Regions from separate parts of the Homo sapiens genome. Here region 2 is linked to region 1. The links come from fine-mapping of genetic effects on gene expression. A gene starts in region 1. The other region holds a variant in brackets. All regions are shown on one strand. Distances are between the middles of the regions. Region 1 holds the start of RIMOC1 (RAB7A interacting MON1-CCZ1 complex subunit 1). Region 2 has its middle 20 kb from the start of CCDC152.

What was found. PIP is the estimated chance that this variant, and not a neighbour inherited with it, causes the effect. A credible set is the group of variants that fine-mapping cannot tell apart.
Region 2: its variant is the best candidate, but not a certain one, in a credible set for the expression of RIMOC1 in fibroblasts (GTEx, PIP 0.84).

The regions. Positions count from the first base shown.
Region 1 is chr5:41,902,576-41,905,487 of GRCh38, reverse strand. It overlaps RIMOC1 (RAB7A interacting MON1-CCZ1 complex subunit 1), which reads right to left and starts at 1,144. Exons shown (of 6, transcript NM_175921.6): 1 at 1,021-1,144. The coding sequence starts at 1,120. RefSeq lists enhancers at 1,042-1,161, 914-1,460, 1,572-1,711.
Region 2 is chr5:42,735,725-42,738,636 of GRCh38, reverse strand. No RefSeq gene overlaps it. Among named protein-coding and RNA genes, the nearest start is that of CCDC152, 20 kb to the left of the region's middle. The variant T/C (reference allele first, on the strand shown) is at 1,660.

The sequences.
Region 1 (2,912 bases):
GACCAACCTGGATGACATGGTGAACCCCGTTTCTACAAAATATGCCAAAGTTAGCCGGGCGAGATGGTGTGCGCCTGTTGTCCCACTACTAGAGGGGCTCCAGCCTGAGCAACAGAATGATACTCTGCCTCTAAAAACAAAACAAAACAAAACACTCCTGATAAATGATAATCTGGCAAAAAATATTCACTGAAACTAAGGCATTTCATCATAGACCCTATTTAATAACAAATTCACCAACTATTCAATCGCTTAAGAAAATGTTCCACCACTGTTTTCCTATGAGTCCGATGATATGAGTCAGTCCACAGAATTTTAAAAACTATCTGTAGTAATTGCTCAAACTCAAAAAGGAATAATGTAGAACCTAAAGGCAGCTGAGACGTAATGAAAAGAATTGGACTTAAATTCAGAAGGTTGAGGCAATTCCCTAGCCCAGTTTTTCCTAACAGCTTAGACCTTTCCAAAACAAGTATGCCAATACTTAACAGAGCCCTTGTGAGAACTGGCATGATGTATGGGGCAGAATAGTCTACACACCAATGTAAAGCTCTTCTATAGAATGTTGTTTTGAATCCAAAACGTAAAACGCAAATTACAACGCAGCAATGAAAAAGTGGAACTGTTATACATGTCTTTTTATCTTTACAGGATGCAAACCACCATAACTAATTTGAGTGTTATCATTCATCTTAGCCATTTATTTAAACTTCTGTATTTTATTTAGATTCTGCCCTTCTTCCAATCGCTACCGAGACAGTTTACACCAGCACGGATCTAGACAGATTTTCCATGGGTTCTGAATAATGCGGTTTTCGAAGACAACGCCTTGGCATTGTGAGTTCTGGGAAGTGGGCAATCGATGGCGCAGAGGGGCTCAGAAGCGACAGACCTCGGGTAACCACCTGCGGCCTGGGACCCAAAGGAACACAGGCCTCAGCCTCTAGCCCTCACAGCCATCGAGCGCCAGTACCTTAGCGCCGTCTGCCCCGCCCGCCTCCCTCTCCTCCGCTCCCTCACCATCTTCACCGGCAGCTTCGCTAAGTTGCTGTATGTGGGCCTGAGCCAGATCCCCGAGCTCTTCCACTCGTCTCACCACACTAGAGACTGCGGCCGCCATGGCCACAATCGGCGGGTGCGCCCCGGTCACGTGACCGTGTTGGCCCGCAATCACCTGATCCCCCGGCACGGGCGGGGCCTAGGGCGGACCTCTCCTGGTTGGTGGGAGGAGACATCAGCTCCGGAAGAGGGCTGGCCCAGGCCGGCAAAGGTCTTTCCGGGTCATTTTTCCCTCCTGGACTTCCCTTCCCTCCCATAATCCTGAGCAGCAAGGAGACTAGGGGCGGGTGTGACGTTGAGACACGCCTCTCTCTAGCCCCCTCCTGTAAGCCAATAGGGAGCCAGCCGTGCCCCTCGGCTGACCCAATCGGAAGTCAGCTCTCTCCGCCTGCCTCTTGGAAGACAGCTTGGTGACGTCTGGCTGGCAGGATGCGGATTGTCGTCCGCACTCCCACTTCCCTGTCCGGCGCGGGAAGCACAGTCTGGAGGGCGGACGCGAGGGTCTGGAGAGAGGACTGTCAGTTTTGGCCTTGTAGTAAGGAGGTTGCTAAAATAAAGTGATTATAATCTCCTGGTCCTAAATGGAAACCCGACCGGCCCCCTGTGTAACACATCCAAGTCTCCAAGAGTTTGTTGTACATCTGGATGGGGAGCTCCAAACACTAGTGGAGTTGCCAGTCTACATGGTTGAATATTGCTTTTGTAAATCTGATTTTTAGCAGTCGAATTTATCTCTGACCTCCCTTGGAGTTCACATTTAAAGTACTTTAGACATCTTGCGTCCAGTGGTAGTAAATTCTGCGGCCACAAAACTATTTTCATTTTTCTTTCATCTCAAGACCTTCCCTTAAGGCGCTAATTGTGCATGAGGTTCATCCTCTCAATCGGGAGTTTCAAAGCACTCAGTCAGCAAGTCTAACTTCACTTTGCATTCTGTGAATGCTTTCTTGCCTCTGGTCAAACAAATCGTTAACTCTGTGTATTCATTTCTCAGTTTGACACACTATATCTTGAATAATCTCCATCCTATTGTTTCTCATGGAAGGTAGTTTTTTATATGTAATAGAAAAATACTAAAAATAGAGAAAAAGTGTATTGTGATTTATAAGTGATTGACCACAATGACTCTCTAACTGACCTTTGTAATACCAGTTTCTTCTGACAATTCACCCTAAATATAGAGGACAGGAATCATGTATTTTGTGTCCTTGGTGCCTCATACAGTGCCTGGCACATATGCACTCTTGTCAACAAGCAAGATGGCAAGGGGATATGATGTGGTCTGTGGGAGTAGACAATTATTCAATAGTGTGGGAATTGTAGGTGAGGAAAAAAAGAATCTAAGTATAAACAAGAAGTTGAGAGAAGGCTTTCTCAACAAGGGATGGAGAAGGTGGTAGTTGAAGAGGGGCAAGTGCTGGAAGGTAGGGTGGAGAATGATCGTATCTGTACACAAAGGGGGAAAAATAGGGAAATAGGGATAAATTCAAAATGAAAGTAGGGAGCCAGCAATGGATAGAGAAAAGAGCAGAAGGTTACACCTGATGCCTTCTGAATCTTCTACAAGATGTAGAACTAAATGAAGCCTTCAGAAGATTTTACTAAACTTTTCAAAAAATAATTTTCAAAAAATAATTAACCTTTGATTAGGAATTTTCAGTCTCCTAGAAAATGTGTAATTTACCATTCTTAAACTACTTAAAAGAATTACCTGGACATGTGGGCAACAGACAAAGGCACAGCTGAAATATTTTGACTGTGGATCTACAAATTATCTCTGCAGAAGTGTTTTACTCTCAGGTCCACTGTTCTTCTCAGGCTTTTATAAAAGACATCTTAGGATCTATGTAATC
Region 2 (2,912 bases), 830 kb before region 1:
CATTCAGTATGATATTGGCTGTGGGTTTGTCATATATAGCTCTTATTATTTTGAAATACATCCCCTCAATACCTAATTTATTGAGAGTTTTTAGCATGAAGGTTGTTGAATTTTGTCAAAGGCTTTTTCTACATCTATTGAGATAATCATGTGGTTTTTGTCTTTGGCTCTGTTTATATGCTGGATTACATTTATTGATTTGCATATATTGAACCAGCCTTGCATCCCAGGGATGAAGCCCACTTGATCATGGTGGATAAGCTTTTTGATGTGCTGCTGGATTCGGTTTGCCAGTATTTTATTGAGGATTTTTGCATCAATGTTCATCAAGGATATTGGTCTAAAATTCTCTTTTTTGGTTGTGTCTCTGCCCGGCTTTGGTATCAGAATGATGCTGGCCTCATAAAATGAGTTAGGGAGGATTCCCTCTTTTTCTATTGATTGGAATAGTTTCAGAAGGAATGGTACCAGTTCCTCCTTGTACCTCTGGTAGAATTCGGCTGTGAATCCATCTGGTCCTGGACTCTTTTTGGATGGTAAACTATTATTGCCACAATTTCAGCTCCTGTTATTGGTCTATTCAGAGATTCAACTTCTTCCTGGTTTAGTCTTGGAAGAGTGTATGTGTCGAGGAATGTATCCATTTCTTCTAGATTTTCTAGTTTATTTGCATAGAGGTGTTTGTAGTATTCTCTGATGGTAGTTTGTATTTCTGTGGGATCGGTGGTGATATCCCCTTTATCATTTTTTATTGTGTCTATTTGAGTCTTCTCTCTTTTTTTCTTTATTAGTCTTGCTAGCGGTCTATCAATTTTGTTGATCCTTTCAAAAAACCAGCTCCTGGATTCATTGATTTTTTGAAGGGTTTTTTGTGTCTCTATTTCCTTCAGTTCTGCTCTGATTTTAGTTATTTCTTGCCTTCTGCTAGCTTTTGAATGTGTTTGCTCTTGCTTTTCTAGTTCTTTTAATTGTGATGTTAGGGTGTCAATTTTGGATCTTTCCTGCTTTCTCTTGTGGGCATTTAGTGCTATAAATTTCCCTCTACACACTGCTTTGAATGCGTCCCAGAGATTCTGGTATGTTGTGTCTTTGTTCTCGTTGGTTTCAAAGAACATCTTTATTTCTGCCTTCATTTCATTATGTACCCAGTAGTCATTCAGGAGCAGGTTGTTCAGTTTCCATGTAGTTGAGCGGCTTTGAGTGAGATTCTTAATCCTGAGTTCTAATTTGATTGCACTGTGGTCTGAGAGATAGTTTGTTATAATTTCTGTTCTTTTACATTTGCTGAGGAGAGCTTTACTTCCAACTATGTGGTCAATTTTGGAATAGGTGTGGTGTGGTGCTGAAAAAAATGTATATTCTGTTGATTTGGGGTGGAGAGTTCTGTAGATGTCTATTAGGTCTGCTTGGTGCAGAGCTGAGTTCAATTCCTGGGTATCCTTGTTGACTTTCTGTCTCGTTGATCTGTCAAATGTTGACAGTGGGGTGTTAAAGTCTCCCATTATTAATGTGTGGGAGTCTAAGTCTCTTTGTAGGTCACTCAGGACTTGCTTTATGAATCTGGGTACTCCTGTATTGGGTGCATATATATTTAGGATAGTTAGCTCTTTTTGTTGAATTGATCCCTTTACCATTATGTAATGGCCTTCTTTGTCTCTT[T/C]TGATCTTTGTTGGTTTAAAGTCTGTTTTATCAGAGACTAGGATTGCAACCCCTGACTTTTTTTGTTTTCCATTTGCTTGGTAGATCTTCCTCCATCCTTTTATTTTGAGCCTATGTGTGTCTCTGCATGTGAGATGGGTTTCCTGAATACAGCACACTGATGGTTCTTGACTCTTTATCCAATTTGCCAGTCTGTGTCTTTTAATTGGAGAATTTAGTCCATTTACATTTAAAGTTAATATTGTTATGTGTGAATTTGATCCTGTCATTATGATGTTAACTGGTGATTTTGCTCGTTAGTTGATGCAGTTTCTTCCTAGTCTCGATGGTCTTTACAATTTGGCATGATTTTGCAGCGGCTGGTACCGGTTGTTCCTTTCCATGTTTAGCACTTCCTTCAGGAGCTCTTTTAGGGCAGGCCTGGTGGTGACAAAATCTCTCAGCATTTGCTTGTCTGTAAAGTATTTCATTTCTCCTTCACTTATGAAGCTTAGTTTGGCTGGATATGAAATCCTGGGTTGAAAATTCTTTTCTTTAAGAATGTTGAATATTGGCCCCCACTCTCTTCTGGCTTGTAGGGTTTCTGCCGAGAGATCCGCTGTTAGTCTGATGGGCTTCCCTTTCTGGGTAACCTGACCTTTCTCTCTGGCTGCCCTTAACATTTTTTCCTTCATTTCAACTTTGGTGAATCTGCCAATTATGTGTCTTGGAGTTGCTCTTCTCAAGGAGTATCTTTGTGGCGTTCTCTGTATTTCCTGAATCTGAACATTGGCCTGCCTTGCTAGATTGGGGAAGTTCTCCTGGATAATATCCTGCAGAGTGTTTTCCAACTTGGTTCTATTCTCCCCATCACTTTCAGGTACACCAATCAGATGTAGATTTGGTCTTTTCACATAGTCCCATATTTCTTGGAGGCTTTGCTCATTTCTTTTTATTCTTTTTTCTCTAAACTTCCCTTCTCGCTTCATTTCATTCATTTCATCTTCCATTGCTGATACCCTTTCTTCCAGTTGATCGCATCGGCTCCTGAGGCTTCTGCATTCTTCACGTAGTTCTCGAGCCTTGGTTTTCAGCTCCGTCAGCTCCTTTAAGCACTTCTCTGTATTGGTTATTCTAGTTATACATTCTTCTAAATTTTTTTCAAAGTTTTCAACTTCTTTGCCTTTGGTTTGAATGTCCTCCCGTAGCTCAGAGTAATTTGATCGTCTGAAGCCTTCTCTCAGCTCGTCAAAGTCATTCTCCATCCAGCTTTG